4 separate regions of the Homo sapiens genome follow, and regions 1, 2 and 4 are each linked to region 3. Evidence: fine-mapped expression QTL. A gene starts in region 3. Each other region holds a variant in brackets. All regions are shown on one strand. Distances are between the middles of the regions.

Region 1 (7,885 bases), 200 kb after region 3:
TTTCCATTTCTAAAATGGATTCATGATTCATTCATTTTGTTAGATTAATCAATATTCATTCTTATTGCTAATTACTTCTCCATTGTATGGGTATATCACAATTTATCCATTTACTTGTTGAACATTTTGGTAATTTCCAGTATTTGGCAGTTATGGATAAAGTGGCTATAAACATTTATGCATAGGTTTTTGTGCAACCAAAAGTTTTCAGTTTACTTGGGTAAATGCATAGGAATGGGATTGAGAGGGAGGTTGTATAGTATATATAAGTTTAACTTTATAGGAAACAGCCAAACTGGCAAAGTAGCTGTACCTTTTTTTTAATTCTCATCAAAATTTAATGAGAGTCTGTTGCTCCACATCCTTAATAACATTTGTAATTGTCAGGTTTTTTTAGTCCATTCTAATAGGTGTGTAGTGGTATCTCAATGTGGTTTTAATTTGCATTTCCCTAATGATTAATAAAGTTGACTAAGTTTTCATGTATTTACTTCCCAGCCATATATCTTCTATGGTTCAGTGTCTGTCCAGAACTTTTGCACATTTTTAAATTGGAATTTTTTTCTTTTTTCTTTTTATTGAGCTTTGATAGTTCTTTATATATTCTGGATACAAGTCCTTTATCAGATACTTTTTTTTTTTTTGAGATGTAGTCTCACTCTGTTGCTCAGGCTGAAGTGCAGTGGTGTGATCTCGGCTCACTGCAACCTCTACCTCCTGGGTTCAAGTGATTTTTCTGCCTCAGCCTCCCAAGAAGCTGGGACTATAGGCAGGTGCCACCACGCCCGGCTAATTTTTGTGTTTTTGGTAGAAATTGGGTTTCACCATATTGGCTAGGCTAGTCTCAAACCCCTGACCTCAAGTGATCCACCCACCTCAGCCTCCCAAAATGCTGGGATTACAGGTGTGAGTCACTGCACCCAGCCTGATTTTTTTTTTAACGGTGTTTTAAAAAATTATTTTATTTAGAGACAAGGTCTTGCTCTGTTACCCAGTCTGGTGTGCAGCAGGGTGGTCATAGCTCACTGCAACTTGGAAGGCAACACTTGCACACAAGTTATCCTCCTGCCTCAACCTCCTGAGTAGCTGGGACTACAGGTGCATGATACTACACCTGGCTAATTTTGTAATGTTTTGTAGAATTGAGGTCTCGCTATATTGCCCAGGCTGATCTTGAACTCCTGACCTCAAGCAATCCTCCTGCTGTGGCCTCCCAAGGTGCTGGGGTTACAGGTGTGAGTTACCATGCCCAGCCTTAATGGTGTCTTTCAAAAAGCAGACATGCTTAATTTTGGTGAAGTCCAATTTATCATTTTTAAAGCAATCAGCATTTGGTGTCATATCTAAAATATTTTGCCTAACCAAAGTTCACAAAAGTTTTCTCTTATGTGACTTATGGATTTCAGTTTTACTATTAGGTCTGGGATTCATTTTGAGTTAATTTTTGCATATGTTGCAAGATATGGCTCAAAGTTCATTTCTTTGCACATGGATATCCAATTCTTCCAGCACCATTTGTTGAAAAGACTATTCTTTCTCCACTGAATTGCCTTTGCACTTACTTTGTCAGATTTATACTTAAATATTTTATATTTTTTTGTATAGACAATACTGTTGTTCTAAAATTACAGTTTCTAGTTTTTCACTGCTGGTACATAGAAATCCAATTTATTTTTGTATATTGACCTTCTATTCTGCAGCCTTGCTAAATGTACTTATTTGTTCTGATAGCTCTTTTGGGGTTTCTCTGGAAGTTTCTATACAGATAATAATGTCATCTGTTGATAGACATAGTCTTATTTCTTTCTATAATCTGCATGCCATTTAAAATACTTTTTTTTGTCATATTGTACTGAATAGGACTTCTAGTATGATATTGAATGGGAACAGTCAGATCTGACATCTTTAAATTTTTTTCTGATCCTGGAGGATGAGCATTCATTCTTTCACCATAACGTATGATGTTACCTGTAAGTTTTCTCTAGATGCTTTTTGTGAAGTTGAGGAACTATTGTTTCTAGTTTGTTGAATATTTTATTACAGATAAATGTTGAATTATAAATGCTTTTCTTACATGCATCGAGATGATCATATGGTTTTTCTTCTTTAGTCTGCTGATGTAGTGAAGTATATTGACTAATTTTTGAAAGTGGAACCAAGCTTATATTCCTGGGATAAACCCCACTTGCCCATTATGTACTGTCATTTTTATATGTTTCTGGGTTAATTTGCTAATGTTTTGTTCCAGGTTGATGAAGAATGATGTGAAGTTTTATTTATTTACTTTGTAATGTCTTTGGTATCAGGATAAGGCTGGCTTCATAAACTGACTTGGGTAGTGATCCGTCCTATTTTAACTTCTGGAGGTTTGTGTGTACTGTAATTGGTATTAGTTCTTCCTTAACCACTTGGGAGAAATCACCAATGAAGCCATCTCAGCCTAGATTTTGTTCTGTTGGAATGTTTTTAATCATGAATCTGTTTCTTTAGAAAATTTAGATTATTCATGTTTTCTATTCTTCTTTCGTAGTTTGTGCCTTTGAAGGAATTTGTCAATTTGCCCAAGTTTTTGAATTTATGAGCTAAGGTTATTTGTAATATTAACAATATTATCTTTTTAATGTTTTTAGGGTCTAATAGCTACTTTTTCAATACAAAATTGGTATGGTGTCCTTCCAATATTGGTAATTCGTGTCATCTCTTTAAAAATTTTTTCAGACTGCTAGAGGTTTATTTGTCCATTTTATTGCATTTTTTAAAGGTTTTGAGTTATTTTCTCTATTGTTTTCTATTTTCAGTTTGATTAAGTTTCTGCTCTTGATTATTTCATTTCTTCTGCTTGCTTTAGGTTACATTTGCATTTTTTTCTAGTGTCTTAAGGTGCAAGCTTCAATCTTTGATTGGAGGCTTTTTGTTTGTTTGTTTGTTTTAATGCTATACATTTCTTTCCTTTCTTTCTTTCTTTTCTTTTTTTTTGAGACAGAATCTCCCTCTGTTGCCCAGGCTGGATTGCAGTGGTGTGATCTCAGCTCACTGCAGCCTCCGCTTCCTGGGTTCAAGCTATTCTTGTGTCTCAGCCTCCCGAGTATTCAAGCAATTCTCATGCCTCAGCCTGCTGGGTAGCTGGGACTACAGGCATGCGCTGCTACACCTGGCTAATTTTTGTATTTTTAGTAGAGATGGGGTTATGCCATGTTGGCCAGGCTGGTCTTGAACTCTTGACCTCAGGTGATCTGCCCGCCTCGGCCCCCCAAGGTGCTGGGATTACAGATGTGAGCCATCATGCCCAGCCTACATTTCCTTCCAAAGACTGCTTTAGCTATATCACACAGCTATTGATAAGGTGTGTTTTTATTTCCATTCAGTTTAAACATATTTTATAATTTTCTTCGTAACTTTTTGCCCAATGGCTCTTTTTGTAATGTGGGGTTTTTTTACATTTTTATTTTTTTTTAATTTTTAAAATTTTGTTTAATTAAAAAAAAGAGACAGAATGGTACTGGTATAAAAATAGGCATATAGACCATTGAAACAGAATAGAGAACCCAGAAATAAAACCCAAATACTTAACAGCCAACTGATCTTTACAAAGCCAACAAAAATGTAAAGTGGGGAAAGGACACCCTTTTCAACAAATGGTGCTGGGATAATTGGCTAGCCACATGTGGGAGAATGAAACTGGATCCTCATCTCTCACTTTATACAAAAAACAACTCAAGATGGATTAAGGACTTAAATCTAAGACCTGAAACTGTAAAAATTCTAGAAGATAACATTGGAAAAACCCTTCTAGACA[T/C]TGGCTTAGGCAAGGATTTCATGAGCAAAGACCCAAAAGCAAATGCAATAAAAACAAAGATAAATAGCTGGGACTTAATTAAACTAAAGAGCTTTTGCAGGGCAAAAGGAACAGTTAGTAAACAGACAACCCACAGAGTGGGAGAAAAATCTTCTCAATTTATACATCTGACATGGGACTAATATCCAGAATCTACAGCGAACTCAAACAAATCAGTAAGAAAAAAACAATCCCATCGAAAAGTGGGCTAAGGACATGAATAGACAATTCTCAAAAGAAGATATACAAATGGCCAACAAACATATTAAAAAATGCTCAACATCACTAATGATCAGGGAAATGCAAATCAAAACCACAATGTGATACCACCTTACTCCTCCAAGAATGGCCATAATAAAAAAAATCAAAAAACAGTAGATGTTGGTGTGGATGTGGTGATCAGGGAACACTTACACTGCTGGTGGGAATGTAAACTGGTACAGCCACTATGGAAAACACTGTGGAGATCCCTTGAAGAACTAAAAGTAGAACTACCATTTGATCCAGTAATCTCAAATCAGGGTATCTACCCAGAGGAAAAGAAGTCATTATATGAAAAGGACATTTGCACACACATTTTTATAGCAGCACAATTCCCAAATGCAAAATCATGGAACCAACCCAAATGCCCATCAATCAACAAGCAGATAAAACAATTATGATATATATATGATGGAATACTACTCAGCCATGAAAAAGGAATGAATTAATAGCATTTGCAGCAACCTGGATGAGATTGGAGACTATTATTCTCAGTGAAGTAACTCAGGAATGGAAAACCAAACATCGTATGTTCTCACTGATATATAGGAGCTAAGCTATGAGGACGCAAAGGCATAAGAATGATACAATGGACTTTGGGGTCTTGGGGGGAAGGGTGGGATGGGGGTGAGGGATAAAAGACTACAAATAGGGTGCAGTGTATACTGCTCAGGTGATGGGTGCACCAAAATCTCACAAATCACCACTAAAGAACTTACTCATGTAACCAAACACATCCTGTACCCCAATAAACTATGGAAAAATTTAAAACGTTTTTAAAGTTTTATTTTTAAAATTTTGTTTAATTAAAAAAAAATAGAGGCAGGGTCTCCCTATGTTGCCCAGACTGGTCTTAAACACCTGGGCTTAAGAGATCCTCTCCCTTGGCCTCCTAAATTGCTAGGATTACAGGCGTGAGCCACCATGCCCAGCCATAATGCATTGTTTGACTTCCAAATATTTGATTGTTTTCCAGATAGTTCAGTTTTTGATCTTTCACTTAATTTTGTTGGGTTTAGAGAACATACTTAGTATGGATTCAGTTCTTTTGACTTTACTGAGGTTTGTTTTATTACCCAGAATGCAGTGTATCTTGGTGAATATTCCACATGTACTTGTAAGAATGTGTATTCTCCTGTCTTTGGAATGTTCTGTCAGTTAGGTCAAGTGGCTGACATCCTAGCTGATTTTCCATCTACTTATGCTATTGATTAATCTGAGAGGAGTGTTGGCGTGTTTGAGTAAAAGTCTGGATTTGTCTATTTCCCCTTTCAGTTCTATCATTTTTTACCTCATGAAGGCCTTTTGTTCAGCACATACATAGTTAGGATTCATAGATCCTATGCAACAAGTAAGTCCTTTTTGCCTCTATATCCTCAGACTCATTTCAAAATTACTAACTCATGATAAAAAAACCATTGGTGTATGAGAAAGAATATTTAAGTTGGATTGATCCAGAAGCCCTGGCCCACTGCCACTTCTCTGCCACTTAGTAGCTGTGGCAAAATCTTTTGCCCTCTCTCATTTTCCTCATCTGAAAATAATTAGGATTATAATGCTTACAAGATTCATAAGAGAATAAATACAAAGTAGACTTGGAAAATATTTGTTACAGAGAAGGGACCATTAAATATTTGTTGAACTTAATACTTGCAGATTCTGTCTGCTCTCTCATCTTCATCATTGCTCTCTCTACCCTCCTCTCTCTGCTGTGCCAGGGAGCTTGCAATTTCTGTTTCTCAGACTCTCTTGTTATCTGTATTCCTGGTAAGTTCTGCTAAAAGTGGAGGTACCAGTGGGAGAATGGAATCTTGGAAGAAGACAGAGCCAGTCCATTTTTTTTTACAATCTACTCTCTCAGGCAGTGGTGCAGCCGCAGTGGAGATTTCATACATGAAAATGCTGAGACTGAAACTCAGGTGTTCTCACTACAAATTTTGCAGTGTTTCCCCAATATCCCATGTATTCATTTTCTATGACTGCTGTAACAAATTACCACAAATTTATTGGCTTAAAATAACCCAAATACATACTGTTCTATAGTTCAGAAACCCAAATGGCTCACACTGGGCTAAAATCAAGACCAGACTTATTTACTCTTGCTAAATATGTCAAAGCCAACTAATTGACGAAATATAATTTAAGCTTGGCCTTTTATTATATTCTGTAGCTGAAAATCCAAGGCTGGACTGAAAAATCAGCAGAGCTGTATTTCTTTCTCCAGTCCCTAGGGGAGAGTCCATTTCCTTGCTGTTTCCACTTCCAGAGGCTGCCCACATTCCTGTCTCTATGTTCGTAGTTACCAAAGTTGAGTTGAGTCCTTCTCACACTGCCATCTTTCTGGTTCTCCCTCTGTCTACTACCTCTGTCTTAACTTTTAAAGGATCCTTTATTTACCTTAGGCCTACCTGGATAATCCAAGATAATCTGCCTATTTCAAGGTCAGTTGACAAACAACCTTAGTATTTCCCTTTGCCATGTAGTATACTGTGGAGTCTAAAGCAACTCCATCTGGGATGCTAATTATCCATGTTGGCTTCTGATTAACTCCACTTCCAGGAAGGCCTCTAAGGTTTCCAGTGTATCTGTACCTTGTGTAAGGGCAGATACTTAATGTAAATGAGGCCCTTAGATCAAACAACCTTGATGTTAGTTAATTTCCATTGTCCTACATATTCCTTCTAACTCACTCTTTCCTTATGTTATATAAGTCTGGGGGATAATGGTATGGGGATCCACCATCTTATCTCACCACTGCCTGAGACACAAATATCGCTTCTATTCATAAGTCCCTATTAAATGTTTCTTTCTAAGAAACTAGATTTGTCAGCCACTTTCTTCAGCCTGTCAGCTTCCTTGGGCTTTGGGGCAGGTCTGCACATACCATAATCACAGGTTCCAAGGATTAGGATGTGGACATATTTAGGTAGAGGGGTCATAATTCTGCCTACCACACCCTCACTGTATCTCTTTTTACAATAGCTAAAGAAGATGAAATATTGGGAGGGTGCGGTGGCTCACGCCTGTAATCCCAGCACTTTGAGAGGATGAGGCAGGTGGATTGCCTGAGGTCAGGAGTTTGAAACCAGCCTGGCCTACATGGTGAAACCCCAACTCTACTAAAAATACAAAATTAGCCGGGCATGGTGGTGCGTGTCTGTAATCTCAGTTATTTGGGAGACTGAGGCAGGAGAATTGCCTGAACCTGGGAGGTGGAGGTTGCAGTGAGCCAAGATCACGCCACTGCACTCCAGCCTGGACAACAGGAGCAAAACTCCATCTCAAATAATAATAATAAAGAAGATGACATAGTGAAGAATCCAGGGTTAGAAGTCACTCTTGCTACAACTATTAAGCAACTATTGTTATTGCTGGATAATATTAAGCGATAATAAGCTATACCCACTTCTTCACTACATTCTGGCTAGCAATGTTTTCATTGTCTTAGGAAAGGCATATGGCAGAGCAGAAAGCAGAAATATTCTCTAAGTCTTTCTGAGTTTTGCTACTCAAAAACTCAAGTCCTTAGGAGGACTTGGTGGATTTTTTTGACATGGTAAGAATGTGACAAAGTAACATGAAGGTAGGAAGATTTTCTTCAGACATTAGGTCTGCTGGCAACGGCTGGGGAATACTTGGGAAGAGAGAGACTAAAAGAGGTTGTGGGTTCCAAGATCAGAGAAGACTGTTTCCTGCTTCCAGGCGACACCACTGTGAGGAATGACAGTAAGTTGTGTCTAGTCAGATGGGACTTTACAGCTAAGCAAAAGATTTCACGTCTCACGAACA
Region 2 (7,885 bases), 160 kb after region 3:
TGCTACTATGAACAGATTAAATTTAACTTTGCGAAACTTGTGAGGTTTTCTCCTTTAAGTATCTGCTATGTTTTTAGACAGTTCTTCTTAAGTCTGGGCTCCCTTACAAAATTGCTAGTATTAATACTCTTCTTAATGCTTTCATCTTTGGCTTTTCCTTATGTGCACACGTATTAATGCTTATAACATGAAAAAAACTTCTTCTGGAACTGTGTGTGACACATATGAGGAAATGACAGAAGGGCAGTGTCCAGAGGGCCTTGTGCCACATATTGAGTTGAAGCTGGAGAGAGGTTAAAACTAGAAATTGTTAGAGAGCTTTTCTTCATCCTAAGAATGTTTAAATGTCACAAAGGATTTTAAAGCAAAAACTAGGATGGATGGATAATGTGTAATGGGCCGTTTTCTGAGAAGAGGGAATGCCAGATGGAATGAGAAGGTGACGCTGAGTCATGCGAATGGAGGAGATAGGTGGGACTGATGCTTAGAGAACTGTAAGCTCAAGATTAAAAACTGGGAATTCTCAGCAGATAGGTGGTCTTTAAAATCCTTGGGCATGGCCAGGCCTGGTGGTTCACTGTTGGGGTTCAATCAGGCTGGTGGGAAAAATATTAGAGATAGTTATAGAAATAGACACATATCTTCTTGGAAAACTGAGAAGTAACTTCAGTAATAGATCTGGCTGAACGCGGCCTGGTTCCTTTACCTTTAGTTAAACAAATTAAACTAGTAATAAAGGAAGGCAGGGTAGTTTACCTAGCTAGCTTGTTTACTCATATAATATTAAGACTAACCTTTGATGTGCCATGGGTGCTTAAGTGCTTTTTACTTGGGAAGTCCACAATGTCAGTTACCCTCTAATGGTGTTGACTCAAGCCTTTGTGAATTAATCTTACTGAATAAATTTGAGTCTCACTAGCGGATAGGGCCATGGTCGCAACTGTTTACAGAACTCTCCAGGGAGTCTGTAAATGGCTCGGACACCCTCAGCTGGACTGGCGAAACAGGATATCTGTGTGTTAGTGTACTTTATTCATCCATTGCTGGGTCAGGGTCTGCAGGCAGACACCCACAGCTAGTGCCCCCATGTTGCCACAGCTCATGCCTATAATTAAAGCACTTTGGGAGGCCGACGTGGGCAGTTCACTTGAGGTCAGGAGTTCAAGACCAGGCTGGTCAACATGGTGAAACCCCATCTCTGCTAAATATACCAAATTTAGCCGAGCGTGGCGGCAGGTGCCTATAATCCCAGCTACTCTGGAGGCTGAGGCAGGAGAATTGCGTGAACCCGGGGGACGGAGTTGCAGTGAGCCAAGATTGTGGTGCTGCACTCCAGCCTGGGCAAGAGAGTGAGACTTCATCTCCAAAAAAAAAAAAAAAAAATTGGGGCAGGGACAAAACTGTGTAGGTAGTACAGAGTAAGAAAAGAGGGGACCTAAAAAAGTGAGTCTTAGAAACTCTAACAATCACCAAATCAAGAGGGATGAGCTTTCCAAAGGAAACTGAGAAGGTGACTGAGAAAGTGGAAAAAGAAAGTATGTAGAGGAAACTTATTTCAAGGGAGGTAAGAGTTGAGAGTGGCCAACAGTATCAAATTCTATGAATTAGAAAGGTCTAATGAAATCAGTTCTGAAAACATGTCGTTCAGATTTATTTTACTTGGGGTTGTAAATACATAGGGCACCAAAAACACTCTGATGCTTCATTATCTTTTAATGGTTATGTCACGGAAATGTAAAGTTGAGCTGATTTTTTTCTTGGTTGGCCCTCCTTGGGTTTGGCATGTTGTATGTGTATGTGTTAAGGAGATAACTGCAGGACCTACCATGTCTTTATTGAGTGATTTTTTTTTTCCCAGAAATACTCTTCGTGTTGATTTCTATGAATTTTTGCTCAAAAATAATAGTCACTTGAAATCTATACACACAGGCATATTTTCATCTCAGGAAAGGCTTATTCTCTACTTTGACTACTTTTTTCTACTTTTTTTTTTTCCTACTTTTCATTTGAGCTTTATTTCCTATGCTACTTTTTACGGTTCTCTGTGAGTCCTCATTATTTATAAGTTGGTTATTTATTTTCAGTTCTCCATTGTAAAATTTTCCTGATTCTAAAATTCTAAGAGCAGTTTATTATGTAGATCTTTTGCTTAAGGGACAGTGTAAAAACTGTGCCTTCAACATTTTAGGATCGTTAACTAATCTCAGAACAACTATAGTTAATTCAGTCTTCAAACTTTGTAATAGTGAATATTTTTAAAGGGCTTAAAGCTAACTTTTTTTTTTAAACAGAGATGTAAATATTAAATATATCCTATTGCATTTCAGTTTCTTTGTAAATATTCTATCATCATTCTGGTTATATCACTCATGTTTTAGACTGTCCATATAATATTTTAAGTGTCAAAATAATATTTTAAATATACTCATTGTATGGAAAAATAATTGTATACATTTTTCTTTTTTGTTTAGATATGGAGTATGAAACAAGACAATTGTGTCCATGATTTGCAAGCACATAATAAAGAAATTTATACTATCAAATGGAGTCCAACAGGACCAGGGACTAATAATCCAAATGCCAACCTTATGTTAGCAAGGTGATACTTCTGTTTCATTTTTCCTTTTATGAGTCTTCTACAAATCAGACTTCCAATAGATATGACAGAAGTTTAGGGAAGATTTCATGAAGTGGAAACTTTTTTTTTTTTTTTTCCAATTTCAGTAGTTTTTGGTGTATAGGTGGTTTTTGGCTACAAGAATAAATTCTTTAGTGCTGATTTCTGTGCACTGGTTTTGCAAGCAGTGTAGTGTACCCAGTGTGTAGTCTTTTATTCCTCACCTCTCTTCTCAGCCTTCTCCCCACTCCCACCTCCAGTCCACAAAGTTCATTATATCATTCTTATACCTTTGTGTCCTCATAGCTTAGCTCCCACTTACAAGTCAGAACATGATATTTGGTTTTCCATTCCCGAGTTATTTCACTTAGCATGATGGCCTCCAGCTCTATCCAAGTCACTGCAAAGGACAATATTTTATTTCTTTTTATGGCTAAGTAGTATTCCATGGTGTATGTATACCACATTTTCTTTATCCACTTGTTAGCTGATGGGCACTTACGTCGGTTCCTTAAGGGGAATCTTTAAACACTGAGTTTTATTATTGTTTCAAGTTATAATGATATTCTATATTGAAATAATCAAATATTGACTGATACCAAATACTGATTAAAATCCAAGCAATTGAGGCATAGCAAAATCTTCAGTATCTTTAGAAAAAAAAAAGATAAATGGAAAAATGTGGTCACTTTGGTGTTCAAAACCATGCGAAAGAGGGATTATTTAGACAGAGAGGAATACAGTAAATGAGCACATTTACGTTTTCTACTCCTGGACTTGGGAGATTCCTTTAAGTTGTTTTTTTCGCTTGTTTAGCTTTTAATTTCTAGAACACTTGCTCTTCTTTCTAAATTTCATTTATTTATTATTTTCTTGTCACTGACTTGAAGATCACAGAATATTCTTCCTAACAGTCCAGTCGGTCTGCTTCTCATAAAGAATTTTGGCTATTAGATTTGGCTGAATATGGGAGGTTGGGTGGGAGCAAGGCTGGGGGAGTATTTCCTTACTTATAAATTAACTTTCTTTCCTTCCTTTTTCAGTGCATCCTTTGATTCTACTGTTAGGTTATGGGATGTAGACCGAGGGATATGCATCCATACCTTGACAAAACACCAAGAGCCTGTGTACAGTGTAGCTTTCAGTCCTGATGGCAGGTATCTGGCAAGTGGTTCTTTTGACAAATGTGTACACATCTGGAACACGCAGGTATGTCTTCATTATTTAAATGGTCAAGTGCTCTTAAATTTAGGTAGAAGCATTTGCCTATACACTCTGCCTCACCATTTGGTTGTCATTCCTCTTGTGGCATTAATTGAATTATTGGTTTTAAAATAAGATAGAAACTAATGGAAGTTATATCTTTATGGAGACTGGAATTTTGAAATGGATTTTGATCATTTGTTTTATTATTTATTATTGTATTCTTTTGTTTTTTTCCAACGGTTTTGCAGATATCAGATGTGAATGTTTAAGATGTATTTATTTAGATAAATGACAGATTTTATTTTTCAAAATAGTTGTCTCCGAAGGAGCTATAT[G/A]TGAGCAGTAAAAGTCAAAGGACCAGATTTTATGGCTGAATGCAATAATTTATGAGAAAGAAACTTACAACTACATTACCTTTTCAGGTAGTATGTATGGTGTTTCAGAGATTCTTAGAAGTGGAGAAAACAGTCTGTTGCTTTCAATTTTTTAAATCTTCTCAATGTTTTAGTTTTTTGCTCTATGTACTATACTTTTTTAATAGCAGTCACTGAACTCACCCCTCTCAGTTATCGGATCTTTGTTGGTTGTAGTGCACACATAATAAGTTGTTATGGTGTATTTCTCTTTGTGTAGGTGTCCGCCACCATGGTTCATTTCACAAATTAATTTTCATCACTTACTTTGAAGATTTTTAAATTACTTCATACATGCATACAGTTCAGAAAAAACCTCAAACCTTGTATAAAGGTATACACTGAGAAACTTTGTTCCTCTCCTGCTGGTAACAATTTTTATTAGTTTTTATTTCTTCCTAGCTTCTTTATGAATAAAAGCATTGTGCTTCTTCCATTTTACACTACTGCTGACAATATAAAGTAATATTTTACCGCACAGTTCAATCCATTAGTGATAAATGGTATTTCAGCATAGTTTTAAATTTGCATTTTCTTATGAATGACATTAGGAATCTTTTTTTATATATTTAAGCACACTTGTTAATTTTTCTGTGAACTGTTTGATCATGTTTTTTCCATTATTTTCAACTGGGTTATTCATTGTCTTTGATTTCTAGCAGCTCTTTATAGACTAAAAAACTAAACCCTTTGTAATGTGGTTGCAGATTTTTGCTAGTTGAACAAATGATTATTAAGCCTGAATCTTACATTACATTTTAATAAAATTTTTTAATATTTATTTTTGTTTTTCTTTAAATAGAAACGGGATCTTTCTATGTTGCCTGGGCTGGCCTTGAACTCCTGGGCCCAAGGGATCCTCCCACCTCAGCCTCCCAAAGTGCTGGGATTACAGGCATGAGCCACCATGAGCCTTCTAATAAAATTTTAGGCTGCACATGGTGGCTCATGCCTGTAATCCCAGCACTTTGGGAGGCCAAGGCGGGCAGTTCTCTTGAGGTCAGGAGTTCAAGACCAGCTGGTCAACATGGTGAAACCCCATCTCTCCTAAAAATACAAAAATTAGCCAGGTGTGGTGACATGTCTGTAGTCTCAGCTACTCGGGAGGCTGAGGCAGGAGAATTGCTTGAACCCAGAAGTGGAGGTTGTAGTGAGCCAAGATCACACCACGGCACTCCAGCCCGGGCAACAGAGTGAGACCCTGTCTCAAAAAAAAAAAATAAAAATTAAGTAAAAATGTTCTGCTTTAATTTTTATTATTACTTCCTTACCTCTACTCCCATATTTGCTGTCTTTATGAATATATGCCTATGTTGGATATATTCTGTAACTATGATATATATGCCTTAAAAACTCTTTCCTAAATTTTAGTTTAACTTTGTGTTTGTGGGAAGACACTAATCATACACCCAGCTAAACTTTATTTTTCATTTTTATTTTTATTTTTTGAGATGAAGTCTCGCTCTTGTGCCCCAGGCTGGAGTGCGATGGCACGATCTCGGCTAACTGCAACCTCCACCTCCTGGGTTCAAGCGATTCTCCTGCCTCAGCCCCATGAGTAGCTGGGATTATAGGTGCCTGCCACCACACCCGGCTAGTTTTGGTATTTTTAGTAGAGATGGAGTTTCACCATGTTGGCCAGGCTGGTCCCAGACTCCTGACCTCAGGTCATCCACCCGCCTTGGCCTCCCAAAGTGCTGGGATTACAGGTGTGAGCCACCATGCCCGGCCTCACCCAACTAAACTTTTTAAAACTGAACAACAGTTACAGAGTTGATGAAAGTGAATCTAAATCTAAATAATATCATTTCCATGTATATTCAAGTTAGTATTTGTTCATTTTCACTTTTAATAATTATACATTTCAAACAGAAAATAATATAACACTCATATATCTACTGCTCAGATTTAATTGATAAGAACATGTTGCCACACTGTTGTGAATCTCTTCCTTCCTATTTTTACCTGATAAAATGTTATAGATACAGATAAAGTGTTCACCTCCATTTTCCTCTTCCTTCCTAGAGGCTATAGCAATCCTGAAGAGAGTGCCTGTCATTCCCATGATAAATGATATATACTACTATTTTCTGTGGTAAAATTGTAATTAATCATGCTGTTGTGAATCTTCTATTGTATGTCTTTTCAAGCTAGTGTTTTTTACCACTTCTTTGAAATATCACATTAATACTTGTACCTCTAGAATGATTATTTATTTAGACTATTCCAGAGCATTATATGAATATATTAATATATTCATTAATAATATATTCATAATATGAATATATTAATTTTCAAATTTATTTTCCTATTGGGGGATTTAAAAATGTACAACATTGCTGGAACATCCATCCACGTTTTCTTGTGCACATGAATGAAAGTTTCTCTAACGCTTCTCTGTGTGTGTCTGTCTCTCTCTCTCTCTCTCTATATATATATACACACACACACACATACACACACACACCTGTGCATAGCATATCCTGTAAGTGGAAGTCATGGCCCATACGGTATATTTACGTGCTTGTGCCTAACTGCTCTTCAACGTGCATACACCCATTTACATTTCTAATCACAATATTTAGGATTTCCCATTTTCCTTTATCTTTAGGTTATCAGACTGGTGAACATTTTTCCAATTACATGGATATGAAACATTTTGTATTTGCATTTTCTTGATTGTCAATTAGTTTAAATATCTTTTCAAATAGTTATTATACAGTTGGACTTTAGCATTTTAGTTCACCACCACCACCACAATTTTTCAATTGTTTTATATTCTGTACTGATTAGTGTTCATTATGCATTCTGGGTACTAATCCTTCCTGGTTATATGGATTCCAGTGATCTCCCAGTACCTTCTTTTTTATTTTCTTCATGTGGAGTGTTTATCACGTAGAAGTTTTGTGGGGTTTTTTGGTTGTTGTTTTGTTTTGTCTTGAGATAGAGTCTCACTATGTCGCCTAGGCTGGAATGCAGTGGCAGATCAAGGCTTACTGCAGCCTTGGCCTTCCTGGGCTTAGCTAATCCTCCCACCTCAGCCTTCCAAGTAGCTGGGATCACAGCTGCATGCCACCACACCCCACTAATTTTTGTATTTTTCTGTAGAGACCGGGTTTTGCCATGTTGCCCAGTCTGGCCTCAACCCCCTAGGCTCAAGGGATCCACTTGCCTCAGCCTTCCAAAGTATTCCTGGGATTACAGGCATGAGGCATCACGCCCAGATCATATGAAAGTTTTTAATGTTAATGTTTAGATGTATTTATCTTTCTTTTTAAAATTAGTTGATTATTTTTAGAGATAGGGTCTTGCTGTGTTACCCAGGCTGGACTCCTCAGCTCAAGAGATCCTTTGACCTCAGCATTCTGTGTAGCTGGGTCTACAGGCACATGCCACTGTGCCCGGCTAGATCTTTCCTTTTTGATAGCTTTTTTTTTTTTTCATAGCTTAATACATTTTTCCTTATAGATATCACTGAGGTCTGATATTTTTTCATGAAGTATCTAAGTTTTATTCCTTTACATTTATTTTTTTAGCCCCTTTGGAACTGATTTTTATATATGGTGTGAGGTATAGATATTTCCATTTGGGTAGTCAGTTGTCTTAGCACCATTCATTGTCCCCTTTCTGTTTTCATAATGCCGGTTTC
Region 3 (7,885 bases):
TCCAGGGTGAGTAAAGAATATAAAATGAGTTATAGCACTAGGAGAATATTTTTGGTATCAAATGTCTTTTTTATACAATTAAGTTTGTTTTGAATACTTTATGTAGATGAGCTAATGTAAACAATTTAAAACATCATGATGATTTAAAAATATATATAGTAATGAGACCCTGTAGTCCTGGGATTGAAGCAGTTTCAATTTAAAATGTTCCATGTCTTTAGCGATGAAAGTTGCAAATGTGTAGGCTATCTTGCCATGCCACACTCCTCTCGGAAAAATATTACTGAAATAAAACAAGTCAGGATTTGTTTTTTTTTTTTTTTTTTTTTTGAGATGTAATCTCACTCTGTCACCCGCCCAGGCTGGAGTGCAATGGCAAGATCTCGGCTCACTGCAACCTCCCCCTCTCGGTTTCAAGCCATTCTTCTGCCTCAGCCTCCTGAGTAGCTAGGATTACAGGCATGTGCCACCACGCTCAGCTAATTTTTGAATTTTTAGTAGAGACGGGGTTTCACCATGTTGGTCAGGCTGGTCTCGAACTCCCGACCTCGTGATCCGCCCGCCTCGGCCTCCCAAAGTGCTGGGATTACAGGTGTGAGCCACTGCACCCGGCAAAACAAGTCAGGATTTGTTTAGCCATTTTACAATATATAGTAACTTCTGATAACAGTTACTGGTATGAGGTTTCTCTTCATTGAGTAATTAGCTAGAAAATTCAAGAGAGAACTTTTTTTTTTTGAGACGGAGTCTCACTCTGTCGCCTAGGCTGGAGTGCAGTGGCACTATCTCGGCTCACTGCAACCTCCGCCTCCAGGGTTCAAGCGATTCTCCTGCCTCAGCCTCCCAAGTAGCTGCGATTACAGGCACCCGCCACCACGCCCGACTAATATTTTGTATTTTTAGTACAGACGAGGTTTCACCATGTTGGCCAGGCTGGTCTTGAACTCCCGACCTCAAGTGATCTGCCCACCTCAGCCTCCCAAAATGCTAGGATTACAGGCGTGAACCACCACACCCAGCGGAGAACTTAATGTGTTCCTTTGCTTTACAATTTCTTAGTAATACAGTAATATCTCCTTTCTAGAAACACATTAACATTTAATTCAAAGTGTAATGGGAGTGTTAGATTAGGACAAAGTACTGAATATTAGTAACAATAGTTCCTTCTTTGTCCTTTCCTCACCCAGTGAGTCTAATCATTGCTTGTATTTTGGTGCAGCCCTGATCCTTTATGCTGGATATGTTGGGACAGCTAGAGGGCGAGGCGACAATACATATGACCTTTGAGTGATGGTTTATTTCTCTGAGTATTTAACATTGAAGCCACACTGTTGTTTCAGATAGTTTCCAGAATATAAAAATCAAAGGGATCAAAATATGATCTGATTTAAAACCCCCTTTGCTGGAAGAATCAAGGCCTTTCCACATTTGGGTGCCCCTATTTTTGTTTGTTTGTTTAAAAACACTCCAGGCTGCCGGGCACAGTGGCTCACGCCTGTAATCCCAACACTTTGGGAGGCTGAGGCAGGCAGATGACTTGAGGTCGGGAGTTTGAGACGAGCCTGACCAACATGGAGAAACCCCATCTCTACTAAAAATACAAAATTAGCCAGGCGTGGTGGTGCATGCCTGTAATCCCAACTACTCGGGAGGCTGAGACAGGAGAATCGCTTGAACCTGGGAGGCAGAGGTTGCAGTGAGCCGACATTCCGCCATTGCACTCTAGCCTGGGCGACAAGAGCGAAACTCCACCTAAAAAAAAAAAATGTACTCCTGCTCTCTCCTCTCTCTTCAATTAGTATGATCCAACAGTGGTGAGTAAAGTACATTTTACTGCAACGGATTTGTAAGTCCCCAGCCTCGATGATCTTCATATTTAAATGCAGTCATTTACGCACAGAAATGTCTTGTAAACTACAGGGATATAAACAAATGCATGGATTATTATCATTGTGAGGAGGCTCAACTAACACTGAACAACTTTAGGAGGCAGCTTGGTGTAGGGTATAAGAACTTCAGGCTGGAAGACCTGATCCTATGAACCTGAAGGAGGGTGTCTCCTCCCTTGTGGAATAAGGGATAGAAGTCATTTAGGGGAAGGAGAAGGGGTGGGGTGGGCAGCTTTGAATATGACGCTTTAAGAATGGTATGGTTGAGAAGTCCTCACTCACTGAAAGTGGGGTTTGATTTTACAGTCACTGCTGTATGGAGAGGACCCGCCCGTGGTGGCACAATATGAAACTTAAAAAATAATCTAAGCCAATAGATATGTTTCATTGAGTGGCTCCACCGAGATAGTTTACTTACTGAAGACAGGGTATGTTTAGTGATATCTACGTCATTTATCAACTCAAAAAAAAAAAAAGGAAGATACTATATACTCTTTTCAATTCTGAAATAAAGTCTTCTGAAAGGTGTTAGTTCTGAGGTAAACAAGCCTCAGCTTTAGAATCCTATTGAAATGCAAAACTTGCTTTGTGCGGTTTCCCTGTACACTCTGCATAGTGTTTTGGAAACCTGCAGTTATCTAAATTCCCATCGGGTGACATTGTTTAATCCAACATTCCCACTTTCATACATGAAAATAGCTCTAAGGACACACCACTAATATGCTTTGAACTCTCTGGTGGTTGGAAGGGAGTTTCCAATCCCACTCCCTTTCCTCTGATGGTTTTCCTGCTCCCTGCCCCACTAGGTCATTCAGGAAAGGCCTCTGGCAGCTCCCCCAAGCAAGGGCTCAGGGGGGAAAGAGACATTGACCTTGGCCAAGAAAGCACCTGTCTAATTACTGAACTTATTAGGCCACCAGGAGTCCAGACTGGTGCAAGTTACGAGTAGTGTGTGTGTGTGTGTGTGTGTGTGTGTGTGTGTGTGTGTGTCGCAAAACTTCAGGTTTCTGATATTGAGAGGAAATGATGGTTGCTTTAAAGTGATCACTACATCTATTTTCAAATATTCTGATGAAAGTAGGAAAACAGAACCCTTCACCTTTAAGAAAGCTGCAAACATTATTTTGCTTTGAAGGCAGTAATAAGCGAAATAACAAAAAGGTTTCAAGTCGTATCTTAATGTAAAAGGGTGGCTGCTTCTCCAGTCCTGAGCTTATACAAAGCTCTAAAAAGCACCCTACCCCATCTTTCTGAAAGTCTTAGAAAGATTACCACCCCATTTGCTTTAAAACCTGTGAGGTGCCTCCCTTCTTTAAAAACAACCCTCCCTCAACCATACTGCCACATTATCACTCATCTAAGTTATACTTTATAAACCGCCTTGCTGTGCTTCACACATGCAAAAAGTACACAAAGTGGATAAACTTCTACTGTGGATGCCACTGTGCAGGTATATATTTAGTAAACATTTAGTTACATTATTTTATTTTTGTGAAATAAGAACTGATCGAGCAAACCTTTCAAACAGACCCACCAGATGATAAATACCACCATATGCTTGATTCACAGTACATTTGGGCATAAATACTTCAATTACAGCTTTGTGTTTAGTATCAAAAACCTTTTCTTGTGTGCGTGTTTTCTCTCCAGATCCCGTGCTCTGGATCACATTTTGAAAGTCGCTTATTACAGATAAAGCACCTTTCCAGGTACGCTTCGGAGAACCATATGTATTTACGCACACAAAGGTGTTCACAGAGATTTTCACAAACAAATGTCCATATGATGCCGCGCCGCACTCCCCCACATGCCCGCCGCGTGTGCGCCCAGCCCCCAACGCCGCCGGGCCGCCCCCCGGACACGCGGGAGCCCGCGGCGTCCTTGGGGAAACTTCGCCGGCGGCTCCACCCCGGCCACCGCGCGGGCCTCCCCGCCCCCACCCGTCTCGGGCCCAGCGGCCCACACCCGAGCACACCCAGGCCGGCCCGCGGCGGTGGGGGCGGGGCGGGCGGCCCGGGGCCCCGAGGCGCCTTCGAGTGCCCGCGGGGCTCGCCTGATTTTTAAAAGAATGCGCCGCACAGCCCAGCCCCCAGTGCCGCCAGAGCGGGCCGGGAAGGAGAGGAGCGCGGCCGCTGGAGCCCCCCCGCCGCGCCGCCGCCGCCTCCCGGCGTCCGCGGCGCCCCTCCCCCGCCGGCCCCTCCCCCGCGCGCCCGCCCGCCCGCTCGCCCGCCCGCCCGGCGCAGGCCGCTCGGGTTTGTTTTGCTGCGCGGCCGCCGCCGCCGCCGCCGCCGCGGGCCTCGCGAGCTCATTTGTGCCTGGCTGGTCCCCATTCCTCTCTCCCCAGTGTTGAGTGTCTGAGCCGTTGGCTGCTCCGAACCGTTTGGCTCTTTCCCTTAGTAACAGCTTTTACCTTCTGCCTCAATTCCTCTCCCCGCTCGCGCCCTTCCCCCGCGCGCCGCCTCCCCCCGCCGCCGGCCGCGTGCGCCCCCGCCCCTCCCCCCGCGGCGGGAGCACCTCCGCTCGCCACCTGGGGACCCGCGCCGCGCTCCCCGCCCCCGCCCGCCCGGCGCCCATCCCCCGCGCCCTCCGCTCGCTGGGGTTATAATTGCCTCTCACCCCCCGGAGGGGTTATTTTGGGGGTGGTTGGAGGCGGTGGCGGCGGCGGCGAGGAGGGGAATTTCCTTGTGCCTCCATTCCCGGGAGGGGGGAGCGGCGTTGGAGGCCACCGTTTCCAGGTAAGCGCTGGGGGCCGGACCCTGGAGTGGGGGCGGCCGGGGGCCTGGGCGGGGGGCGCGGGCCAGAGGCGGCCGGGGGCGCTGGGCCGCGGGGGGATGGGCGCGAGTGGAACATGCATTTTTCAACTTGGCCCTTGGGGGAACTGGGCTTGCGTGGGGGAAGGGAAGGCAGGGAGGGCACTTGGGGCGCCCCCATCCCCCCGTTTTCCTCTCTCAGGTTTCTTTGAAATGCTCACGTGCCTGCCCACCCCCCTACCCTTTCCCGGTCTCGGGGGATCCTCACCCTAATTATGTTGTCCCCGAAAATGTGCACCTCGGCCTTCTCCCCCTCTTCCTCCCTTCGTGCATTTACACCCCCTTTTTGTGCGTGTGTGTTTGGGGGGGGAGGCTTTCAGGAAAGGATTTGCAGCAAATTGAATCAAGGAGCCATCATGAGGCCGACTCCTTTATAGCCTATTTTTAGCAGAGGAGAAGGAGCTTTTCGGTGCATGCTATTTTGTGAAACCTCGGGCGGCAATGGAAATCTCCCCTCCCCGGGCGCGTCCCCGGCCCGGGCGCGGCGACCCCGGCCGGCGTGCTGGGGGCTGCGGGCGGCTGTTGGGGCCGCGCGTCCGGGGCGGGGGCGCCGGCCGGGGGAGGGGCGCGCGGCAGCCGGGCCTTGCTCCGGGACGTGTTTATTTGTAACTTAGTGCTTTTTATCGTCTTAAGGAGGTATTTGGTGGAGGCTCTTTGAAGTTGGGTTCAGGAGTGTAGAATTGGCAAAGTTATTGCCAGCTTCCTGGTAAGTTTTGGGTGGCACAGAGTCACGTTATTTTCTGACAGTGTAAAGGCCACGTTGTGAGGGTGGTTTCTCGGTAACTTCCTCTTTGCAACCGATTTAATTTTTTGAACAGAAGCAGACTTTTATTTAAGTGGAATATTAATCTTAAATGGCAGCTCGAGGGAAGCCATGCATGTGTTAACGTGTTCAGTATTTTTGGAAGTTCTTAATTTGCTGAAACAGGCATCACTTCGCAGTGGCAACCGGGATTAAATTTAGGTTGTGAAAATGGTGTATTTCATGTAAAATTTGGGTTGTGGCTTTTAAAAAATGCTCTCTTTGTTAGGTTATCTAAGTGTCTCTAAGATAATTTGGTGATTACAAATGAGAAATGTTGGAAACTAGTTAAAAATTAGGTGTTCTCAGTGTCTGGAGTTTACTTGAAATCTTGGACTGTGCAGGCACCAGGGGTGAAGAGTTTTAGTACCTATGTGATTTACAGTTGACTTAGGAAAGTTTACTATTCACTTTCTTGTTTTCCAAACAGGAACCGTATGCTGATCTAAACAAGCTTGTTAATAAAATGTGGGGGGTGAAAATGCCAGGTTATTTTTAGTTTGAATTTTAAGACTGAATGGTTGCTCTACCCCCCACCTCATATAATTAAGTGATCTTCCCCCTCCGTTTTTCCTAAAGGCTTCTTCACCAGTTTGGATAATAAGGCCCTCGTGGTGTGTTCATCTACTTACCTGAAATAACTTGGAATAAATAATTTCGATTACACGTTGAAGATACAATGAGTGACTGTTTGGGTTTTCCAGTGTGATTCATTTTCATTTTTGTTAAAATAAGACCCATGCTACATTGATGTATTTTAGTAATGCCGACTTCCTGGGATTGTATGTTCTCACCATTTTAATAGTTTATAGTCTGGGGAAGTAGGGCACCTTTGTCTCCCCGAAAACATGGTGTGGGTTGGGTGGTATCATGGGAGTTGATGGCAAGCTTCCCAAATAGTTGAGAGTTCTAGAAATAGTTAGCATTTACCTGTGGGGGAGGGGCTGCAGGAAGAAAGTATGCCTGAGAGCAGTTAGGCGTGTGATGTGTGATTAGGCTTCTTGCTCTTAAATCCAGGTTTTCTTGTTTGGAATATGATTTTTTTTTTCAACCCTATCCTGCACTGAGATGTATGTAATCGCAATCATTAAATTCATAAATAACTACTATTTTTTTTGACGTTTGAGTTGTTGGAATCCGACCTACAGGACAAAATACTAAACTGTATGGGGGACGAAAACTACGTGCCTGGGAAAAGTTTTTCTTATTGCTAAGGAACTTAATAAAGTGACATGTTAATGGCATAAAAATTGTTGCAAAGCTCACCGTCAGTTTATGACATTTTTCTTTTAACGTATACCAGCTTTGGGTATTAATGTGGGAGACACTGGTGGTAAATGGAGTGACCCCTTGCAGAGATGATATTTTTGCATTGGTTGCTTCAAAGAAGTGTTAAGCATTTTAATACGTATGTCTAAGAATCTTTTTGATATTTGTATTCTCGACACCTAATTAAAGGTTTTGCATGATTACCATGACACCAGTCTCCCGAAAGAATTAGAGGTAACTGCTTCCTGTGTTCTAGGAGCCTTTCAAGCTAACAGAAGGTAATATAAATATAAGGGGTACTGATAAAAGGAAATGTATTAATAGACCTTTTGAACATCAACTTGTTGATTAAATCTATCAGTGCAGTATATATACAACCTTGTCAGACGAGTAGCTGACAAAGGAATCTCCCTAGTACAACTTGTAGCAGTACTATTATAAAGAATTCCTGACTTGACACATTTTGATGAAGTTGGTTGAAATAATTTGTTGGGTTTGTTCAATTTTTGGTGTCATTTATATAAAAAGAATAAAGAAGAATGTGAATGGTAGGAAGTCAGGGGAGAGGCATGGCAGAAACATTGGTATTCACTAGAACTTGTATTTTTCTAGTGCATGTGAATTGGACTCATTTCACAAATAACATTTACAGTATAAGTCACTGAAATGCAAAAAAGGAAAGCAGCTAACACGAGACATTTATACTTTATGCTCAGACATTCTGGTAGTAGAGGAGGGCTAGGACCCTAGAGCTGTGTAGTAAAGAATTGTTGAGTATCGTTCAGTTTAGGTACCACGAAGGTGGTATCTCCTGCTCTGCCACCAATAGAAACTTGAAGTTAAAAAGAAAAGACTCTGAGAGCGCTGATGCTGGAGAGATTTGGCTGTTTACCCCTCTGGGATTGGATTCGGTAAGAGTGCAATTAATTGCCCTGTAACCATAGAGCCAGAGGAGAGGGACTAGGTGCTCCGGGCTATGCTCTAGGAGGTGTGAGGTGCTTTCTATGCTGTTTATACCCTAGGCTAATCCTATGAGGTAGATAGTGTTGGGCTTTTTTTGTGGATGATGAAACAGAGATGCAAAGAAGTTAATTCCCTTGTTCAAGGCCACAAAA
Region 4 (7,885 bases), 110 kb after region 3:
TTTGTTTTTGTTGCATTTGCTTTGGGGTTCTTGGTCATGAAGTCGTTGCCCAAGCTAGTGTCTAGAAGGGTTTTCCCAATGTTATCTTCTGGAATTCTTATGGTTTCAGGTGTTAGATTCAACTCTTTGATCCATCTTGAGTTGATTTTTGTATAAGGTGAGAGATGAGGATACAGTTTCCTTCTTCTACATATGGCTTGCCAATTCTCCCAGCACCATTTGTTGAATAGGGTGTTCTATCCCCACTTTATGTTTTTGTTAGCTTTGTCGAAGATCAGTTGGCTGTAAATATTTGGCTTTATTTCTGGGTTCTCTGTTCTGTTCCATTGGCCTATGTGCCTATTTTTATACCAGTATCATGCTGTTTTGGTGACTATGGCCTTATAGTATAGTTTGAGATCAGGTAATGTGATGACTCCAGATTGGTTCTTTTGGCTTAGTCTTGCTTTGGCTATGTGGGCTCTTCTTTGATACCATAGAAATTTAGGACTGTTTTTTGTACTTCTGTGAAGAATGATGTAGTATTTTGATGGGAATTGCACTGAATTTGTAGATTGCTTTTGGCAGTGTGGTCATTTTCACAATATTGATTCTACCCATCCATGAACACAGGATGTGTTTCCATTTGTTTGTGTCATCTATGATTTCTTTCAGCAGTGTTTTGTAGTTTTCCTTGTAGAGGTCTTTCATCTCCTTGGTTAGGTATATTCCTAAGTATTTTATTTTATTTTTGCAGCTACTACAATAGCTGTAAAAGGGTTTGAGTTCTTGGTTTGATTCTCCACTTGGTTGCTGTTGATGTATAGAAGAGTTAGATTTGTGTAAATTAATTTTGTATCTGGAAACTTCGCTGAATTCATTTATCACTTCTAGGAACTTTTTGGAGGAGTTTTTAGGGTTTTCTAGGTATACAATTATATTATCAGCAAACAGCAACAGTTTGCCTTCCTCTTTACCGATTTGGATGCCCTTGATGTCTTTTCTTGTCTGATTGCTCTGGCTAGGACTTCCAGTAAGTACTATGTTGAATAGAAGTCATACCACATATTCTTTATCCATTCATCTGTTGGTAGACATTTGGGTTGCTTCCACCTCTTGGCTGTTATGAATAGTCCTGCTTTGAACATGGATGTGCAAATCTCTTTGACATCTTGATTTCAACTCTTTTTAGAACTGGAATTCTTTTTGGGATCTCAGAAGAGGGATTGCTGGATCATATGGTAATTCTAGGTTTTTTTTTTTCCTTGAAAAACTTCTGTACTCTTTCCAGAGCAGCAGCACTATTTTACATTTCTACCAATAGTGCAACAGGGTTCTACACACTGGACAACATTTGCTGTTTGTTTGCTAGTGCCCATCTTAATGGATGTGAGGTGCTGACAATAATTTCTTTACACTACCAACTATCTACTTAGCTTCAATTTTTCTGAACTGCTCCTAATATGTTTTTACAGAATCAACAAAACTTATACATTATGTTTGGTTACTGTGTATAGTTATGCTTCTACCTATTTTTTCCCTTTTATTTGTCCTGTGAAGTTTTCTACATTCTGTATTTTATTAATTGGATTCCTGTAGTATAATGTTCATCTTTTCCTTATATTTTCTGTAAATTGGTGGTTATAGCTAAAGGCTTCATCTAATGAATTAAGATTAATCTAATCTTAATTTAGGTTTTTTCCTTTATTATTTTGGGAGGTTGGGGTGGCAGAATATTTCACAGGTGGTGCTAAGTATAGATGGAATACCTCTAATCTGAAATGCTCCAACATCTGAAATTTTTTGAGCACTAACACGACACTCAAAGGAAATACTCATTGGAGCATTTTGGATTTCACATTTTCACAATGGGAGCGCTAAACCGTTATACTGCAGATATTTCAAAATCTGAAACACTTGTAGTCCCAATCGTTTTAGATAAAGGACACTTACTGTATGCTTGCATAAGGAAGCACCCAATGTTTGTTTTTTATTCCTGACAGTAGGCGACATTGATGATCATTCCTAGAACCATTATTTCCATGAGGGCAATGAGAATGTTCATATTCAATTATATCAAGCTTTTATTATGTGTAACATTTCTATAAAGAGAAACTTTCCCCAACAGATATTTCGTTACTTTGTGGCACAGATTGCACAGGAAAGGCATATGAAATGCATGATTCTTTCTTTTATTTACCAGTTTTCAAAGTACTGAGTTGTTTCCTGGAAGCCTTTCTAGTATTCTTGAATACCTTTCTAGGTAACAAGTGAGGATTTTTTTGAGTTATTGTGAGCGTGTGGATTTAGGCATTTGATATGTTTTATTGACTGTAGTTTGTATTCTTATTGATGTCATTCCCTTGGCCAAAAGAGCCTTTTCAAGTTGACTTCTGAGTCTTTTCTGACATGACTCTAGTATTGTCTCTCTGGTAGCTTCCTTGCTTTCTGACAAAACAACATGTTGGCCAAAGCTCATCTTGTACATGTCCTTCATTGGTCCTCAGATCAGCTATGTCTCTAAAGTCCTGATTCCTTTTAGTGAAAAAGAATATTTATATATTTATGTTATATAATATGCAATAGTTAATATGTAAACATAATAGAAAATAATGTATTAAACAAAAGTAGAGTATAAATGACATATAAAGTACATGTACTTTATAAGTACTTTAAGTACATGTAAATGTAGAAAATAAACATAATATAAAATTATACGTATTTTTATATTTATAAATGTATATTTAACCAGTATGAGTAGTGACTGTTGTTTTCATTTTTCTCTTTTTGTCCACGTCTCAGTGGGATTACAGCTAAGTATTACGTTTTAAAGTAAGTCCTCATGTGTAATCTGCCCCCCTGCCCACCTCCAATTTGATATATAGTTGGGTCAGCTTGTCCCTCCCCTCCCCTATCTCCCCAATTCCTGCTCCCATTTCCCTTTTCTTCTTCCCTTCCCCTCTCCCTCTTTTCTTTTTCTTTCTTTTCTTCTTTTCAGCAGGGTGTCACTCAGTCACCCAGGTAGGATTGCAGTGGCCTGATCATGATTCACTGCAGCCCCGACCTTCTGGGCTCAATCGATTCTCCCACCTCAGCCTCCCAAAGTAGCTGGGACCACAGGTGCATGCCACCATGCCTGGCTAATTGTTTTAACTTCTATTTTATTTTATTTCGAGACGGAGTCTCGCTCTGTCGCCCAGCTGGAGTGCAGTGGCGTGATCTTGGCTCACTGCAACCTCCGCCTCAATTCTTCAAGTGATTCTCTTGCCTTGGCCTCCTGGGCAACTGGAACTACAGGTGCGTGCCACCATGCCCAGCTAATTTTTGCATTTTTAA[G/T]AGAGACCATGTTGTCCAGGATGGTCTCTGTCTCCTGACCTCGTGATCCACCTGCCTCAGCCTCCCAAAGTGTCTTGATTACGGATGTGAGCCACTGCACCCAGCTGATTTTTTTTTTTTTTTTTTTTTAGTAGAGACAGTGTCTCCCTGTGTTGACCAGGCTGGTCTTGAACTCCTGGGCTCAAGCACTCCTCCTGGCCTCAGCCTGCCAAAGTGCTGGGATTACAGGCCTGAGCCACTATGCTGGGTCCAGGCCAATTTGTTTCATTTTATTTTTAGTATTTAGAATTTAAAAATATTTGTTTTTATTTTGTTTTATAATCATAGGAAACATTTATATCACTTCAAAGTGAGATACATTCTTACTTCCTCCTTTTGTAAGTAACCAAGTTTTAAAAATCAAACTATTTTTGGTTTATCTTGCTCAAATGTAAACAAATCCATGGGTATTCTTAAATATTCTGGAGATCACTTCATAGCAGGACATAGAGATAGTCTTTATTCATTGTTTTACAGCTGCATTCTACTCCATTACACAGATAGCTGTTTCAAGAGTGGAAGTTTTTAGATAGGAGCATGAAATGTGCATGTCAATTTGCCAGATTTCCTTCTGTAAAGCATTATGCCATCTTATGTTCCTTTCAGCAATATACGAGGTTCCCTCTTTCCCCATTAGCAGACAGTATATATGATGTCTTTTTTGATACATATATGTCTTTTAATCTGATAGGTGAGAAATAGTATTTCACTATGGTTCTAATTTGCATCTTTTCATTTATTTTATAACTGTTTGCTAGTTTATTTTAGAACTGTTTGCATATCTTTTTCTTTGAACTGTTCCACAGATAGATTCTTATTTTCCAGAAAAGTCTACCAACTGTGTCGATCAATCCCCTGAGCCCTTCTATTTCCTCTTGTTCTGTTTGTATAGTCATCCCACAACTTCTAAAAATTAATTTGGTTTAACAACAGGACTCTTCCACAAAGAATAGAATGATGCTGAGCAGTTCTCTTAGGTTTGATTCTTGAGGAACCAGACCCTTGATTATAACCCTTTATTGGAGAGGTGGATCTAGAAAGTTCCTGTGGAGAAGCCAGAAAGGGAAAAGGAGGCTGATACCGACTGCCTGAAAGACTAATTTTTTTGTTCAGTTGGACTCAAATCATGTGGCATCCTCGGGAACAGTGTAGAACATGTCTCTTTTTCCACCTAAGGGGCAAGGAACCTCGGGTAATTTGTCCACTAACCCCCATTCCTTAGTCTGGGAGTTAGGCAGTTAGGCTTTGCGGAGGGCAGGGCAGCAGCTCCTGACCTGCTGTTTGGCCTCAGGGTGCTTTGCAGTAAAAAGCTACCCAGCTGCTTGGGAAAGTTGAGTGATGAGGGAATGTGGGCTGGGCCCTGCTGGCCTCTTCTGCATTGATGAATATTCTGGTCTACTGACAGGTACATTTCTCAGTGTAATTAGTAAATCACCTCTTTTACTCATAAACCACCCTGCTGTATTTTGTTAACATATCTTCTCTCAGAACTTGATTATTCTTAAAAAACTGAAAGAAGTTATGACTTGCCAGACTGAAGACAAGACCCCAAGGAGTTGTGACCCTGCCAACAGGTCGCTGCCGAGAAAGAGTGTGGTACATAGCGAGGAGTCAATGATTATTACCTACTTATAAATGTAGCATCCATAAATTAATTTGTTCTATTTACTGTAGGAAAGTTCATTGTTACTTTCATTTTTAATCTTTTACCATCATGATTAGGAACTGGTATTATTAAATGTGAAGAAAGAAGGACATTGTCGCATGATATTGTGTGAACCATTTTCATTTGGTTGAGAATGTATGCCTCTGGAGAGCTGATTCCCAAATCAACAGTAAGAGGGTTACATTGAACACCTCTTAGTCTCTAGGCTTTTCTTTTCTTTTTTTTTTTTTTAAACAAATGAAGAAAAGCAGAGCACACACAAATTGGAGTTATATTTAACTGATTCCTTGTATCTTTGTCATTAGAGGCTGAAATAACTGAGCCTAAAATGGAAGCTGTGAAAGACTGTAGTATCACGTGAAAGGCAGAGAAAGCTTGGCTTCTTACATGGATTTAATCTTTACACAGGTTGAGCATTGGTTATCCAAAATACTTAGGACCAGAGTATTTCAGATTTCATATTTACTTGGATTTCGGAATATTTGCATATCTATAATGAGATATCTTGGGGATAGGATCCAAGTCTAAACACGAAGTTCATTTATGTTTCATATACTCCTTATATATATATAGCCTGAGGGCAGTTTTATACAGTATTTTAAATAATTTTGTGCATGAACCAGAGTTTTGACTGTGACTTGTCATATGAGATCAAGTGTGGAATCTTCTGCTCATGGCGTTATGTCACTGCTCCAAAAACTGCAGATTTTGGAACATTCTGGATTTTGAATTTTTAGATTGGGGTGCTCAATTTATATTAACTGTGATAGAACTTGTTATGGTGAATTACTATTTTCATTTTAAAACATTTTTCATGTTTCAAATAATTTTGCTGTCCTTTCTATAAATTCTCAGTGTAGGCACTATTCAGGAATAAAATACTAGCTGTCTTACCTCGAGAAACACAGAGTAGTGTGAGAGCAAGGACATATACCCACAATAGAGGGATAGATGTTTAACACGGTAATGTTAAAACAAAAGGTGTCCTATCACTGAATATTATCTGGCTTATTTTTAAGTTTTCCTAATTTTCTTTGGGTGTACTATATTAAATTTGGTCTTACTAGATTTTGACTATTTGGGGTTGGACAGCATGGTCCCATATAGCCATAAAATTGGAAACTGAAGGCCATTTCTTACTTCAATGGTGTATTGAAGCCATTTGAAGACTCCCCGCCCCCCATTCTTTTTTCCTTTCATTCATCCATCCGTCCAGTGGATAAGATTGCATGATTTAAAAAAAAAAAATTTTGCTTGAGACAGAAATTAACATGCTAAAGTTAGTGTGTAAAGGACAGGAACTTCTAGTTTCATACAGGTTCTGTTTGTTTGCTTCTTCAACTTCTGTCCTTTTTCTTAAGCCAGTTAATTTTAGTTATATCTTTTGATTTATTCCTGGTTCATAGAAACAGAAATCCTTCACCATGCCTATTTTCTCTCTTTTTCTATGATTTACTAGCACCTGTAAGGAGAGTTTTTAAAACAAAAAGGTTGGAATGCTAAAGTTCTTAATTCACAACCCTCTATATGTTAGGCCTTCATTTCCTGTCAGATGTTTATTGGGATCATTTTGAGTTTATTACAACCTGATATTTTTTAAAAAAGTGACTTAGAGCCTAAGGGCTTATGATTATAGAACAGATTACATAGAGGTACTTTAAACATGTAAGAGAAAAATGCCAAAAACCATTTTGATTAGTTTAATTTTTTTTTTAAATAAAAAAGTAAGTAAAAATCAACCCCAAAATGGAAGGGTTAGTATAGTTGACCCTTGAACAACACAGGTGTGGACTATGTGGGTTCACTTCTACTTGGTTTTTTTAAAAGTACAGTTGCATCTAGTATGCCTGCCTTTCTGCCTGTCTGTCCTTCCACCTCTTCTACCTCTCCCACCCCTCAGACAGCAAAACCAACTTCTCCTCAGCCTTGTGAAGAGGATGAGGACCTTCAGGATGATTCACTTCCATTTAATGAATGGTAAATATATTTTCCATATGATTTTTTAAATAACCTTTTCTCTAGCTTCTTTTATTGTAAGAATACAACATCTAATAGCTACAACATGTAAGGTGTGTGTGTTTATGTTACTAGTAAGACTTCTGGTCATAACTAGGTTGTTAGTAGTTAGGTTTTTGGGAAGTCGGAAGTTATATGTGGATTTTTGATTGGGTGGGTTGATAAAACCCTAACTCCTGCTTTGTACAAGGGTCAACTGTATATGTTCCGTGATAGAGAGTAGTTATCTTACTTAAATATTGTTATAACCATGTAAAGTTGTTAATATCTGTTTCATTGGTGAGAAAACCATTATTTTTCTTAAAAAAAAATTGTGGGCTCTAATTATAGTAGAGAGATGAAAATTTATTTCAGAAAAGAGACTTCCGTTGCTCCAACCCCATGTCATGTAACAGAGCAGACACTTTCATTACCCCCTGAACATACAGCTTGTGTATGTATGTATGTAAGACAGACTACCCATATTGAGACACCTTGGCCCTTCTTTTCTATTGGCTCCCCTCCCCCACCGTTTCATGTCTGTATTTAGACTTACCCAGTATGGTAACCACTAGAAATACGTAGCTGTTGAACACTTGGACATAAGACTAGTCAGAATTGAGATGTGCTGTAAATGTAAAATGCATGCTGGATTTTGAAGACTTAATTTTTTAAAGTAAAATATCTCAATTTTAAACTATTGATTATAAGAAATAATATTCCAGATACATTGGGTTACATAAAATATTATTATTAGAATAAATTCTGCCTGTTTCTTTTTAACTTTTTCATGTGGCTACTAGATAATTTAAAACTTACGTGTGTGGACTTGGCTAGTGCTAATATCTGGGGAGACTGGAATGACTTTCT

Evidence for each region. PIP is the estimated chance that this variant, and not a neighbour inherited with it, causes the effect. A credible set is the group of variants that fine-mapping cannot tell apart.
Region 1: its variant is the best candidate, but not a certain one, in a credible set for the expression of TBL1XR1 in tibial nerve (GTEx, PIP 0.56).
Region 2: its variant is the best candidate, but not a certain one, in a credible set for the expression of TBL1XR1 in thyroid (GTEx, PIP 0.62).
Region 4: its variant is the best candidate, but not a certain one, in a credible set for the expression of TBL1XR1 in T cells (TOPMed, PIP 0.76).

The regions. Positions count from the first base shown.
Region 1 is chr3:176,997,003-177,004,887 of GRCh38, reverse strand. No RefSeq gene overlaps it. Among named protein-coding and RNA genes, the nearest start is that of TBL1XR1-AS1, 36 kb to the left of the region's middle. The variant T/C (reference allele first, on the strand shown) is at 3,797.
Region 2 is chr3:177,028,912-177,036,796 of GRCh38, reverse strand. It overlaps TBL1XR1 (TBL1X/Y related 1), which reads left to right. Exons shown (of 16, transcript NM_024665.7): 13 at 2,472-2,599; 14 at 3,661-3,826. Among named protein-coding and RNA genes, the nearest start is that of TBL1XR1-AS1, 4.6 kb to the left of the region's middle. The variant G/A (reference allele first, on the strand shown) is at 4,159.
Region 3 is chr3:177,193,860-177,201,744 of GRCh38, reverse strand. TBL1XR1 (TBL1X/Y related 1) reads left to right here and starts at 4,263. Exons shown (of 16, transcript NM_024665.7): 1 at 4,263-4,624. RefSeq lists silencers at 3,672-4,051, 4,292-4,481, 4,592-4,691, 5,172-5,221 and enhancers at 3,669-4,176, 4,177-4,686, 7,455-7,885.
Region 4 is chr3:177,086,077-177,093,961 of GRCh38, reverse strand. The region is part of intron 2 of TBL1XR1 (TBL1X/Y related 1); the gene reads left to right. Among named protein-coding and RNA genes, the nearest start is that of TBL1XR1-AS1, 53 kb to the right of the region's middle. The variant G/T (reference allele first, on the strand shown) is at 3,316.